2 linked regions of the Homo sapiens genome follow. The protein of the gene in region 2 purifies or fractionates together with the protein of the main gene of each other region. This does not show direct contact. Each region holds a gene or a part of one and is shown on either strand. Other genes may lie near its edges. The genes, in order: NPTN and ATP2A1.

The links.
Region 1: the proteins of ATP2A1 (region 2) and NPTN purify together in Homo sapiens (affinity purification with mass spectrometry; 2 studies listed by BioGRID and IntAct, with this or other methods). This does not show direct contact.

What each region holds. Positions count from the first base shown.
Region 1 is NC_000015.10:73,567,350-73,574,619, forward strand, and holds part of NPTN (neuroplastin isoform b precursor), read right to left. Parts: intron 6,447-7,270; coding exon 6,313-6,446; intron 3,075-6,312; coding exon 2,801-3,074; intron 2,458-2,800; coding exon of another isoform or gene 2,441-2,457; exon of another isoform or gene 2,365-2,440; intron 2,195-2,364; exon of another isoform or gene 1-2,194. UniProt on the Homo sapiens protein: Probable homophilic and heterophilic cell adhesion molecule involved in long term potentiation at hippocampal excitatory synapses through activation of p38MAPK. May also regulate neurite outgrowth by activating the FGFR1 signaling pathway.
Region 2 is NC_000016.10:28,895,218-28,902,487, reverse strand, and holds part of ATP2A1 (sarcoplasmic/endoplasmic reticulum calcium ATPase 1), read right to left. Parts: intron 4,489-7,270; coding exon 4,363-4,488; intron 4,256-4,362; coding exon 4,037-4,255; intron 1,908-4,036; coding exon 1,572-1,907; intron 626-1,571; coding exon 405-625; intron 305-404; coding exon 102-304; intron 1-101. UniProt on the Homo sapiens protein: Key regulator of striated muscle performance by acting as the major Ca(2+) ATPase responsible for the reuptake of cytosolic Ca(2+) into the sarcoplasmic reticulum.

The sequences.
Region 1 (7,270 bases), on a different chromosome or scaffold from region 2:
AAAAAAAATCCAACACAGAGCCACAGATGGTTATCTGATAGGTAAACACTTATGACCTCTTAACACTCCCAAGTTTGTGTCAAATATAATGTACCTCTTCGTTTATTCCAAAAGGAGTGTACGTATATATCTATATGAAAATTTGGGGAGAAGCACATGGGAAGGAAGCAGACAGGTAAGTTTGTCCTTCCTATGGAGTGCACAGGGGTTGAGGGGAACTGGCTAAAGAAGGAAAAGGCAGAGAAGAAGGAAACTCACCAAAGAACATTCAACTTTTTCTTTTGTTTAATGATTACTTCCAGGAAAGGAGAAGAAAAGCGGGCAGGGGTGGAAGCAGGATGGAGTTTGAGAGAAAGACAGAAAGAGACAGAGGAGAAAAACAGAATGGAAATACTGGAGCAAGGGCAGGGTGTGAAGATGGAGAGTGGAGCCTGGCCCACACTGGCTGTCAGGAAGGGAAGGAGAGAAGGCAAACATTGCCATCATTCCAGCATCTCAGATTTTTCACCCCAATGCAACAACAACGAAGTAAACGCTGCTTTCATTACAATACTCTCCCAAGAGACTAGAGCAAGGAGGTTTTACTTTGCACTTACCCTGCCGTCATCTCTTTTAAGGGTAGGATTCATTCACTGTCTATAATAACTTAGTTTAAAAGAGGTACTTTCCCTCTAGGAAGCTGTTCAGATTTGCTGGCCACAGATGTCTCCTATAACAAACTGGTCCCCCATTTGATTTCAGTAACCAAGAAAACTCTTACAAAAAAAGAGCTGCTTCCCTGGGCAGGTGTCTGCACTTATCCAACAGAACAATCCTAACCATTTCTCAAATCTAACCTACCACATGCACTGTGATAGCAACCTCATAAGCGCGGTGACTTCTTAGGGCAAAGACTAGACCTCTGCTGGGAACACGCTAGGCTGCTGCATCACTCTCACCAGTGGCAGCCAGCCTTGCCTTAAAATTTAAAAATCAGGTTCTGAAGTCCATCTCTGCCTTCTCTTACCTGACTTTTTAGCTTCTCAACCTTTCCAAAAGGCAGGCTGAGGAAGGTGGTATTGGCAAAGCAAAAGCATTCTGGGGGGATAAAAAGGCCCTTTTCAGGAATGAGGCATAACTGATCCCACAGAGCCAAAGCTGAAAACACACGAAAGACAGGCAACTCTTTCCCTTTACTCCCAGGTCTAAATAAAGGTGCACTCTTGCCTTGGGAGTCCTAATATGTAGCAGGAAAGAAATACCTGGAGAGAAAAAGCATTAGGAGTACATGAAATCCCAAAGAAAGCAGGTTCACTTCATAAAGTAGGAAAGTAAAACTCATGGGGACACTCCCAGGTTGCAGGAAACTAGAGATTCATTTGCAGAGGCCGTCTGCTCCCAGCCAACGTCCTTCCCACGCCTCTGCCCAGCTCACTGCTGAGTGCACATCTGGAGGGAGTCACCAGATATTGTCAGTGTCATCAACAAACCTCCTCACCAGCCACTCACTCTACTTACTGCAGGCAGAGAGATTTATAACTGCTGAGAAGAAAGGAAAAGATGGGGAAGGGGCTGTTGCTCTCAAACATGTCCTCCCAGAGAGTCTAAAGCCACTGGCATGCCTCTGGGGCCACATTCTTTCTGAGGGAGCACCAGATGTCACTTTGTATTCTCCACTGGACAGCCAGCTCTGTGGGGCAGGATACAGCACCACAGGTGCACAAACACAGGCCCCAGAACAGCTGGACTACAGCTGGCAACCCCACCATCACCCCGGGTAGGCTACCACTGAGCCCAGGGGCACACCCATCTGTCTAGTCTAGCCAGGGACAGACTAGTGGTGGTAACAGTCGGCCAATTAATTTCTGTACGCCGGTCATGTTATAGGGTGGGGATGGGGAGCCAGCTGGGAACCTGAAGTACTGCAGATACAAGTCTCCATCAGCAGCTTCCCCCTTCACAGGAAAAATCGATCACCAAAAATTTCCCAAGGCTTTTCTGACTCTAGGCATATCCAATAACCTAAGATTTCAGCTCTTGCTCTTTCCAGTGCTCAGTGGTGTGCTGTGGTTCTGCTGCTACCATCTCCTCCCTTCTCTGACCCTAGGCCAGCTTGAGGGCACAGCCTCGGGGCATGGACTCCATTTGTTCCGCCTTTGCTATCTCTGTCTTACACTAGATGGGTGGATACATCAGACTCTCCTTTGTCTGTGAGACACAGATGGAAAGCCACCCAGCAGAGAGCGCTGGAAACCTATCAAAGGGACCAACCAAGGAACCAAAAGCTGGCTTGTTCCAATGGCTTTTCTGAGAACAGTCTGACTGGGCTGGGGCAGTTACCTACAGGGGCTACACCAGGCAACCATGTGACAACCAGTTAGATACCTTAAATCTGCCTGAAAGGCCAGGTGGCCTGCCATCTTGGGGTGGCTTCTAGGCTTGACTTGGATTCTCCTCAAGCTCAATCTGCCTGATGATCTGTATTGAAGGAGGACAGAGCTGAACAAAGAGACTGACAGCTGCCCATTCACCACATGGGGCCTGAAAGGCAGATGGGACTAGGGTTTGGAAAACACCCAAACAGAGGGAGAGAGCTAAGGACAGCTCTAGATGGCTAATGCAAAAAAAATAAAAATAAAATAAAAATAAAAAATAAAAATAAAAAACTCTTACGGGTAGGGGGTTAGGAACTGGTATAAGAATTTTCCTTCTTTCCTTTAGGGATTGAATCCCAACATCCCTATAGTCCTCTTTGGGTACTTGGAAACCACCCGAAGGAACCAACCCCAGCAGTACAGCTATTTTGTAGGGATGCTCTTACCGTCAGGAACCTCATCTGGCCTCTTCCTCTTCTCATACACAACAATGATCACCACAAGGATGATAATTTCAGCCAGAATTCCCAAGAAAGGCCAGAGTGGGGCCAGGTGGCTCCGCACCCTGAGGACAGTGACAACAGAGGCGGAGCCAATGGCGTTGGTGGCATTACATTCATACTCGCCAGGGTCTTCCGTGATCTGCAGGTTCACAATGTTCAACTCAGTGTAATTTTCCTTGTTGATGATGAAGAAGCGGCCAGAGGTATTGACAATGTCCTGCAAAAAAGTGAGAATACACAAAGGTGAGAGTGAGTAACTGAGCTAATGTTCAAGAGAGGGTGACACTGCTCTCCGTTCTTTTTAGGCACCAGCCAGAATGAGGAAGCAGTGTCTAGGAACATTTCATTAATGATTTCCCTTCAGTATCAACAACAACAAATCAACTTCTGACAGAGCCAGGCAAGCCTCCCTTACCATCGGTCCTCCAGACTTCCCCGACTTCCACGAAGTGAGTGCAGGTCCTACTGCCTGGAGACTCAGAAAAGTCCAACAACCTAGTAAATGCTGCCTCCAACACCAGGTAAGAAACCACAGCAGAAAGAGGACGGCAGAAGGAGGGGTACAACCCCTACAGTCAGGCATGCCTCGGGGACCTCAGGCCTCTCTGATGACCTCAGAGTCAGCACACTGACTTCACACTTGGTGAGTTCTGAGGAAGTCTCCTTAAACTTCCTCCACAAACAATGCTAAGAACTCACTCCTAGTCAGACTGGGGGAAATTCATAACTTTCCTTTCATTTAAGGACTAGAGGTTAGAGGAAAGGTTATTCAATCAATCAACAAATATTTGTGGCTGGGCACAGAGGCTCATGCCTGTAATCTCAGCACTTTAGGAAGCTAAGGTGGGAGGATCGCTTGAGCCCAGGAGTTCAAGACTGGCCTTGGCAACAAACTGAGACCCCATCTCTACAAAAAATCAAAAATAAAATTAGCTGAGCATAGTGGTGTACACCTGTGGTCCCAGCTACACAGAAGGCTGAGGCAGGAGGATCACATGAGCCCAGGAGGTTGCTGCACTCCAGCCTGGTAGACAGATCAAGACCCTGTCTTAACACAAAACAAAACAAACAAATAAAAGAGAACAAATATTTACTAAAATATGCTGCATGCTTTATATCCTACTAAGGGCAGGTGGGAGTGAGAAGGTGAGATAGGGAGAAGACAGACCTAGAAATGAATAAGGAGCTTGGCCTCAAAAGGGAACCAGACATCCAAAAAGGGATGACTGATTTCAGGAATGTGTTAAGAAGCCCCAACAGAGCGTGTGTATAGAGTGCTGTAGGGCACAGTGAGTGGCCACTGCTGGAAAGAGTCAGGGAAAGCTTCACACATGAGCTAACATTTGCACTAGACTGTGGAGGAGGACAGCTGATCAAACAGGGAGGAGCAGTGCAGGCAGGGATTCGCATGGGTGTGAAGGCAGAGGTGCAAGAGTGCACAGGCAGAGGTCGGGACTCAGCGGGATGGCTCACTGCACTCAGCTCATGAGATCCCGGCAGGGAAAAAACAGACTCATGTGTCTTTACCCTGCAACAACTAAAGCACAATCAGAAATAGGAGAGAAAAAGGGGAATATTATCCTGGAAATGATTCTAGATATGGCATACAATCTTGTCAGCATTTGAGTGCAGGTACATCTGAAATGGGGAACTCGTAAGCTTTTAAAACAGCTAGTCTGTGATGCCTCAAGCTTCATCTTTCAGATTAAAACACATACTGCGTTAATTCCAACCTGCTTTGGCAAAAGCTCAAGGGCACTCCTTCCCAGTGACCAGCAGAGAGAAGTGGACATTTCCTCTCCAGTGCCTTAGAAAGTTCAGTGTCTTGTAAAAAAGACTCAGCATCTTCACCTCGGCAATCCTCATCCTGCTCCTCGTTAACGGGTCTCTGAAATCATCGCTGATGTTGGAGTCATTATCACAACTCAACATTTTATTATCAAGATGTCATGAAGTAGGAAGAATAATGGACTTGAAATTTAAAAAAACTAGATACAACTCTTGGTTTTGCCACTAATTTATCTTGGCTACTATGGAACCCTTCCAAAGAAGATGGATTAATGATCTTTAAGGTCCTTTTGGATTCTGAAGACTGATAATCAAAGAGGATCCATGGGATCAGAGGAACGCTTGACACGCTCTCTGACAGAAAAGGTAATGGGTCAACAATCATAATGAGAGAGAAAGTGAGGTTCTAAAGCTCTGACTCTCCAAACAACATCATGAATCATCCCACTGATCGGAAAAGATGTTCTCTTTGACATTTTCTGGGGCAAATACCGTCAGGTTCCCAATGTCTAAGGCTGCCAAGGCTGCCCTTGGGCCTCCTCAGGTTGCCCCGATTCCTTATCAGTATGTTCTGTGTTGCAGGAATGTACTAGTAATTGCCCTCAGTACCTTGGGCCTCCTCAGGTTGCCCCAATTCCTTATCAGTATGTTCTGTGTTGCAGGAATGTACTAATAATTGCCCTCAGTACCTTGTTTCCTACTAAAAAAACAAGGCAGGTTCTCTAAGACCACTTCAAAAACAGTATTTTCTTCAGGATAAATGGACGAGAATTAGGCTCGGTTCTTTCAGTGTCCTATCCTGAAGGCAAGTGATATGGTTTGGATTTTGTCTTCACCCCAATTTCATGGTGAATTATAATCCCCAGTGTTGGAGGAGGGGCCTTGTGGGAGGTGACAGGATCATGGGGGCGGATATCCCCTTTGCTGTTCTCCTGACAGTGAATTCTCATGAGACCCGGTTGTTTAAAAGTGTGTAGCATCTCCCTCCTTCACTCTCTTCCTCCTCTCCAGCCACCTAGGACCTGCCTGCTTCCCCTTCACCTTCCACCATGATTCTAAGTTTCTCTACTTACAGGGATCACTTAAGAAGAAATAAACAGCAACTGCAGTCTAAAAAATAGGTAAGTTTCAAGGATCAAAGAAGCCTGAGGGGGAGGCTAATTCTTTGGATTTAGCTTTATCTTAACTATATTACCTGTCAATGCCTCACCTTCAGTTACAGTAATCTGAAAGCAATAAAACTCAAAGCAGGCCAGATGTCACTCTGTTGTCTAAGATAGGAAAGATCATCTTTCCTGTGTTTCCTGAGGCCTCCCCGGCAATGCTTCCTGTAAAGCCTGTGGAATCATGAGCCAATTAAACCTTTTTTCTTTATAAATTACCCAGTCTCTGGAAGTTCTTTAGAGCAAAGTGAGAATGGACTAATACAGTGAGCAATCTAATCTCTTACCAGAGGGACAGCTTTAACAAATCACGTACAGGGATTTTTGTGCTGGAAGAGACTGTCAATGACCTCTTGATTCATGCTGTAAACCGTGACTCTAGAAAGGGTGACCCTCGCCATGCACACATCCGAGGATACAGCTACTACAGTAACTGACCCACGTGTCTGGACCTCTGCAGGGAAAACTCCAGCAACCAGAGACCCGGGCCTGCCTCCTACTCACCATGGGCATCCCGTTCTCCTTCTTGCGCCATATCCAGTCTGGGTGGGGGTAGCCAACTGACTTGCAATACATAGTGGCATCCTGCCCTTCATTCTTGTTCTCACTCCGTTTATGGCCAGTGATGTCAGGAGCGGCTGTGAGAAAGCGTTAGACGCAGTTACCACGGAAGTCTACTCCAAACAGGATACAAAGGCCCCACCTTCTGGCTCAGAGCCCTGCTTGTAATGTAGTCAGTCTTTATGCTTACTGTCATACTCAGCTTTGATGAAGAGCATTTCAGGTCAGAATAGGGTAAAGGGACCAAACCCATCCTCTACCCCCCACCCGCTAAAGATGCCCAGGCAGATACCAGGGTTACTAATATATGAGGCTCTACTAATGTAGGTGATTCTCCAACCTACTGGAAAAGGATGCAGGTCCAACTGCCCTCAATTAAGCCTACCTTTAAAGAAAATGCAAACAAACACTATTATCTCTTCTATCGGCCCAAGTTTTTTCTTAAAACACCTGCATGAACAACAGTTATGCATCCTGTCAAATATCACACATTCCCTTAAGGAAATGAGATTCTGAGATAAAACAACTACAATCAAGTCCTATTACAAGGTATGTAAAAACAATGAATGCTTGGAGAAGCTACTCAATAAGTAACAATGACCAAGGCTCTCCCAGGAAAGAGGGAATCCAGAAACTGGTCTTCACAAGGAGGAAGAAAGGAATGAACAGGAAATTCAACCAGTGTCCCAAGAGATTTTTTTTTTAATTGAATGACTGATTGAGATGGGGTCTTATTCTATCGTCCAGGCTGGAGCATAGTGGCATGATCGCTGCTCACTGTAGCCTCAAGCTCCTGGGCTTAAGTGATCCTCAGCTCCCGAGTAACTAGAACTACAGGCACATGCCACTACACCTGGTTAATTTTTAAATTTCTTGTATAGACGGGGTCTTACTATATTGC
Region 2 (7,270 bases):
AAGGAAGAAGACCCTCTCAGCACCTGCATGGGGGAGCTGGTGTCCCAGAGAGGGGGTTAGTCCCAAGGGGTGGGGAGGATCGAGGAACCCCTCCAGCTCACCCCCGATTGCCATGTAGCGGAAGAAGAGCCAGCCACTGATGAGGGGCTCCTTGGGGCTCCGGGGGGGGCGGTCCATGATGTCCAGGTCTGGTGGGTTGAAGCCCAGGGCTGTGGCTGGGAGCCCGTCGGTCACCAAGTTCACCCATAGCAGCTGCACCGGGATCAGGGCCTCAGGCAGCCCCAGGGCAGCGGTCAGGAAGATACTGTGGGAAGGAGGTGGTCACACCTCTGTCCTGCCTCCCAGACCTGCAGCCACCCCACCCTAACCCCGGCTTCCTCCTGGACGCCCACCCAGCTGCTCACCAGACCACCTCGCCCACGTTGGAGGAAATGAGGTAGCGGATGAACTGCTTCATGTTGTTGTAGATGGCGCGGCCCTCCTCCACAGCAGCTACGATGGTGGAGAAGTTGTCGTCAGCCAGCACCATCTCAGAGGCAGTCTTGGCCACGGCAGTGCCAGATCCCATGGCAATGCCAATCTCAGCCTTCTTCAGGGCAGGGGCGTCATTGACGCCATCACCTGTCTGAGGGAGGAGGAGAAGGTGGGCTTAGGGCACCTTCACACATCCCTCCTTTTTAAAAAAGGTTTTATTTTAGGGATGAGGTCTCACTCTGTTGCCCAGGCTGGTCTTGAACTCCTGGGCTCAAGCAATCCTCCTGCCTCAGCCTCCCAAAGTGTTGGGATTACAGGCATGTGCCACCACACTTGGCCAAAAACTCAGTTTAGAACAAAGATCGGCACACTTTTTTTTTTGAGACGGAGTCTCACTCTGTCGCCCAGGCTGGAATGCAGTGGCGCAATCTCAGCTCACTGCAACCTCCGCCTCCCAGGTTCAAGCAGTTCTTCTGTCTCAGCCTCCTGAGTAACTGGGACTACAGGCATGTGCCACCACGCACGGCCAATTTTTGTATTTTTTGGTAGAGATGGGGTCTTGCCATGTTGTCCAGGCTGGTCTCAAACTCTTGACCTCAGGTGATCTGCCTGCCTCAGTCTCCTTAAGTTCTGGGATTACAGGCATGAGCCCCTCCGCCCACCTTTTTTTTTTTTTTTTTTTTTTGAGACAGGGTCTCACTCTATTGCCCAGGCTGAAGTGCAGTGGTGCAGTCATAACTTTCTGCACCCTCAAACTGTGCTCAAGTGATCCACCTCAGGCTCCCAAGTAGCTAGGACCACAAATATGTGCCACTGTGAGGCTAAATTTATTTTTAAAGTTTTGTTTTAGTAGAGATGAGGTCTTGCTATGTTGCCCAGGCTGGTCTCGAACTCCTGCTCAAGTGATCCGCCCACCTCAGCCTCCCAAAGTGCCAGGCCCAGCCCACAAATCCTCCTTCAGACTCTTCCTTGGGGTCTGAATCCCCACCCTTCTTGCATCTTACCAGGGCCCTCTGGCCCTGGGCCCCACTCTCCCCAGCACAGTCATCTGGTCATCTCCGTGGACACTAAGGCTGCAGCTGCCTGGGCCCTCTCACCATGGCTGTGATCTCATCGTAGGACTGCAGGTACTCCACAATCTTGGACTTGTGCGAGGGCTCCACACGGGCGAAGCAGCAGGCACGTCGGCAGGCTTCCCGCTGTTCAGCCAGGGGCAGGTCGTCGAACTCTCGGCCCGTGTAGGCGCGATCGGCCACCTCCTCGTTCTCCCCAAAGATGCCAATTCGCCGGCAGATGGCAATGGCTGTGCCCTTGTTGTCCCCAGTGATCATGATCACCCGGATCCCGGCGTCACGGCACAGCTGGATGGAGCCCGTGACCTCCTTGCGCGGAGGGTCCAGCATGCCCACTACACCCACGAATGTCAGGTCCGTCTGGGGAGATACAGCAGAGAGCCACAGGTCAGGTGGGGATCTGGAAAACTCCCCTGGAGGAAGCTGGTGGGGGGTGGGGATGGGGTGAAAGGTCAGGAAGTGGTGGGGAGGGGTGGGAAGCCTGAACCCTGGGCTTGCCGCCTCAGGGCCTGGTGTCAGACCTCAGTGGGGCCTTGGAAGCTCAGAGGCAGGAAACATCTCATTCATCTAAGCACCTGCAGGTGCTGATGGTGCCAGGCCCATCATGGGTCAGATCGTATCTTTTTTTTTTTGAGACAGGGTATTGCTCTGTCACCCAGGCTGGAGTGCAGTGGTACAACGGTGCGATCATAGCTCACTGCAGCCTCAATCTACCAGGCTCAAGCGATCCTCCTACCTCACCCTCCCAAGTAGCTGGGACTACAGGCATGCACCAACATGTCCAGCTAATTTTTTTTTTTTAATTTTTAGTAGAGAAAGGATCTTGCTATGTTGCCCAGGCTGGTCTCAAACTCCTGGGCTCAACAGATCCTCCAGCCTCGGCCTCCCAATGTGCTGCGATTACAGGCATAAGCTACCACGCCCAGCCCAAATCGTGTCTTTCCTTTTTTTTGTTTTTGTTTTTGTTTTGTTTTTTGAGATGGACTCTTGCTCTGTCACCCACGCTGGAGTGCAGTGGCAATGGCATGATCTCAGCTCACTGCAACCTCCACCTCCCAAGTTGAAGCGATTCTCCGCCTCAGCCTCCTGAGTAGCTGGGATTATAAGGGCGCACCACCACGCCTGGCTAATTTTTTTATTTTAGTAGAGACTTGGTTTTACCATGTTGGCCAGGTTGGTCTCAAACTCCTAACCTCAAGTGATCTGCCAGGCTTGGCCTCCCAAAGTGCTGGCATTATAGGTGTGAGCCCTGACACGTGGCCCCAAATTGTGTCTTTTTCGGGGGGGGGGGGGCGGGCGCAGGGGATGGAGTCTCGCTCTGTTGCCCAGGCTGGAGTGCAGTGGCACGATCTCTGCTCACTGCAACCTCCGCCTCCCAGGTTCAAGCGATTCTCCTGCCTCAGCCTCCAGAGTAGCTGGGATTACAGGTGCCCACCACCAAGCCCAGCTAATTTTTGTATTTTTAGTAGAGATGGAGTTTCACCATATTGGCCAGGCTGGTCTCAAACTCCTGACCTTGTGATCTGCCTGCCTTGGCCTCCCAAAATGCTGGGATTACAGATGGGAGCCACCATGCCCAGCCAAAATGTGTGTTTCATAGAAAGAACGTGAACTGGAAGTGAGGTACTGCTTTCTGCTTTTGGCAGTGCCACTACGTGACCCACAACTTAGAAGAAATCCTCTGTACAAAATGAAAGGAGGGACTGTGGTGCCATTCTGGCGCTGGTCTAGTAGAAGTAAGGAGTCTTTGCCAGAACACAGATCAACTGTCTCGAGACAGTCTTGCTACAGAAAACACAACAGCTGAACTCCCCTATGTGCTGAGTGGCATTGGCTCCTGTTCTGGTTCAAGTGGCTCACCTTGTTACCAACCACAGATCACATTTGCTAGATGATTCCCAAGGTTCATTCTTTCTCTCTTTTGTGTGTGTGTGTGTGTGTTTTTGTTTTTTGTTTTTAGAGACAGGGCCTTGCTTGTCATGCAGGCTGGAGTGCAGTGGTGGGATCATGGCTCACTGCAGCCTCCAACTCCTAGGTTCAAGTGATCCTCCCACCTCAGGCTCCCCAGTAGCTGGGTCTACAGGTGTGTGTCACCATGTCCAGTTCATCTCTTTTCTTTTAACATTTTTAAAAATGTATTTTACTTTTTACCCAGACCCCTATGAATTTAACCAGGTAATTAAAAAAATTTTTTTTTTAATAGAGATGGGGTTCTCACTTCATTGCCCAGGCTGGTCTTGAACTCCTGGGCTCAAGCGCTTTTCCCATCTCAGCTTCCCAAAGTGCTGAGATTACAGGTGTGAGTCACTGCACCCGGCCTCCCAAGGTTCTCTGAAACTCTACTGTCCTGTGATTCCATGGCCTGTACTAAGGAGCCATCAACTTGACTGACGAGGTAGGAAATGATCCGGGTGGTGGAGCTGTGAGTGGATGGCTGGGACCCGGCCCTTCACCAGCTCCACGACAGTGGGAGGCTCCCAGCTGCTTACCTCATACTCCAGGAACCTGGCAGAGTCATCCAGGACCATTTCCTCTCGCTTCGGGGGGGTGTCCCGGGTGGCCAGGGCCAAGCAGCGCAGGGTGTCCCGGCCAGTGCCCCACTCCTTGATCACCGCCATGATCTTTTCCTTCACCGGCCCCGTCAGTGGCACCCGGGTGGTGCCAACTCGCACATAGTTACAGCGGTCGATGACGCCCTCAGGGGCACCCTAGGAGACCAGAACAGCATTCAGAGACCACCACTTTCCTTCCAGGGCAGTGACAGGTGGCTAGGAGTAGGAAGAAGAGGGGGCTGAGGCACATTCCGATTTCTGACCTTGACAAACATCTTGTTGCCCACAGCAGCCCGGGAAGATTTGGCTGGGGAGCAATAGACAGACATGGACTTTCTGTCTCGGGAGAACTCCAGGGTGAATTCCTTCTTCATTAGCTGGCGGATCACCTGGAGAGGAGACAGGGAGGGGAGACCAGTCCTCTTAAAATGGTCAAAAAGAATCTGGAGGTCAGAGCAGACCCCAAGCTAAGGCTGAGACTAACACTAAGTCTGGTCCCTATAGCACAAAAGGAGAAAATCCCAAGGCTAGTGTTGCCACAGTGCTTCAGGGTCCTAGGTTAAAGCACAGAAGAAAAGGATGGCCTATTGTGGCACTGTCCCACAGAACTTTCATTATTGGCCAGGCGCGGTGGCTCATGCCTGTAATCCCAGCACTTCAGGAGGCTGAGGCGGGTGAATCACTTGAGGTCAGGAGTTCGAGACCAGCCTGGCCAACATGGTGAAACCCTGTCTCTACTAAAAATACAAAAATTAGCTGGGCAGAGATTGCAGTGAGCCAAGATCGCACCATTGTACTCCAGCCTGGGCGACAAAGCGAGACTCCGTCTCAGAAAAAAGAAAAAAAAACTTTCATTGTTTGTTTATTTATTTTTATTTACTTATTTTTTTCTTTAGAGACAGAGTCTTGCGCTGTCTCCTAGGCTGAAGTACAATGACGTGATCATAGCCCACTGTAGCCTTGGCTCTGGCAATCCTCCTGCCTCAGCCTCCCAGCCAGCTGAGTAGCTGGGACCACAGGTGTATGCCACCACTCCAGGCTAATTTTAAAAAAATGTTTTAGAGATAGAGTCTCCCTGTGTTGTCCAGCCTGGTCTCACTCGTGGCCTCAAGCAATCCTCTTGCCTTGGCCTCCTAAAGCATTGGGATTACAGGCATGAACCACCACACCTGGCCCTATAACTTTTAGTAATGATAGAAATGTTATGTGATCTGCACTGTACAATTGGTGCAACTGAGCAATTGCTGTGGAGCATTGGAGGTACTCTGTATATTATTTAATTTGAATTAATTTTTATTTATTTATATTGAGATGGAGTCTTGCTCTGTTGCTTAGGCTGGAGGGCAGTGGTGCAGTCTTGGCTCACTACCACCTCTGCCTCCCAGGTTCAAGCCATTCTCCTGCCTCAGCCCCCCAAGTAGCTGGGATTACAGGCACACGCCACCATGTCCAGCTAATTTTTGTATTTTTTAGTAGTAGACCAGCTTAACCAACATGGAGAAACCCCGTCTCTACTAAAAATACAAAATCAGCCAGGCGTGGTGGCACGTGCCTGTAATTCTAGCTACTCGGGAGGCTGAGGCAGGACAATCACTTGAACCCAGGATCACACCATTGCACTCCAGCCTGGGCAACAAGAGCAAAACTCTGTCTCAAAAAAAAAAAAAAAAAAAATGAAGGCCAGGCGCAGTGGCTCACGCCTGTAATCCCAGCACTTTGGGAGGCCGAGGCAGGCAGATCACGAGGTCAAGAGTTCAAGACCAGCCTGACCAACATGGGGAAACCCCATCTCTACTAAAAATACAAAAATTAGTTGGGCGTTGTGGCACATGCCTGTAATCTCAGCTATTCAGGAGGCCGAGGCAAGAGAATTGCTTGAACCCAGGAGGCGGAGGTTGCAGTGAGCCGAGATGGCCCCACTGCACTTCAGCCTGGGCAAAGCAGAGAGACTCCGTCTCAAAAAAAAAAACTCGTCTCTACTAAAAATACAGAAAGTTAGCTGGGCATTGTGGCTTGCATCTGTAATCCCAGCTACTAGGGAGGCTGAGGCAGGAGAATTGCTTGAACCCAGGAGGCGGAGGTTGTGGTGAGCTGAGATCATGCCACTGTACTCCAGAATGTGTGACACCGCAAGACTCTCAAAACAGACAGACAAACAAACAAACAAACAAACAAACAAAAAGAATGAAAGCCTTTTTCACCAAATGTATCATGGATACTTCTCCAAAAAATAAAACAAAAATAAAAAGAACAAAACATCAGTAGCCAGGAAAAGTGGTGCATGCCTGTAGCTTCATCTACTTGGAAGGCTGAGGCAGGAGGATGGTTTGAGCCCAGGAGTTCAAGGCTGCAGTGCGCTGTGATCACACCTATGAATAGCCATTGCACTCCAGCCTGGGCGACAGGCCAAGACCCCATCTCAAAAATAAATAAATAAAAATTTATGTTTGCATTATCATTTATAAATTTTAAAAATTAGTCCTCTATTGACAGGTATTTAAGTTGCTTTCAGTTTGTTTATTTTGGAGACAGGGTCTCCCTCTGTTGCCCAGGCTGGAGTGCAGTGGTGCAATCACTGCTTGCTGCAGCCTTGACCTCCTGGGCTCCAGCAGTCCTCACACCTTAGCCTTCCTAGTAGCTAGAGTACAGTTTTGCACCACCACACCCAACTAATTTTTTTCTTTTTTTTTTCTTTCTTTCTTTGTTTTTGTTTTCGTTTTTTTTTGTAGAGATGCGGGTCTCACTATGTTGCCCAGGCCGGTCTTAAACTCCTGGGCTCAAGTGATCCTCCCACCTCAGCCTCCCAGAATGCTGGGACTATAGGCGTGAGTCTCTGTGTCTGGCCCGCTTTTTTGTTATATTAAATAAAGTAGCAATGAGCATTTTGCATATACAAAAAAAGAGAGAAAGAGAGAAATGTGGGGAATATAATTCCCCAGAGAGAAGTGCTTAATGGAGACGTTCAGCAAGTATCAATAGCAATAACTGGGAGTGACAGTCCTAGAAGTGGCCGGGTTCATCTGGGCAAGGAAAGGCTTTCCCTATAGGTGCAGTAGCCACATTTCCCAAATCCTAAGTCAGGACTCATCATCTGCTGAAAACAAGTGTGCTTCTAGAAACAAAGGAATAACAGATGAAGTTGGGGCTGCTCCTGGATGGGTCCCTTGTGGT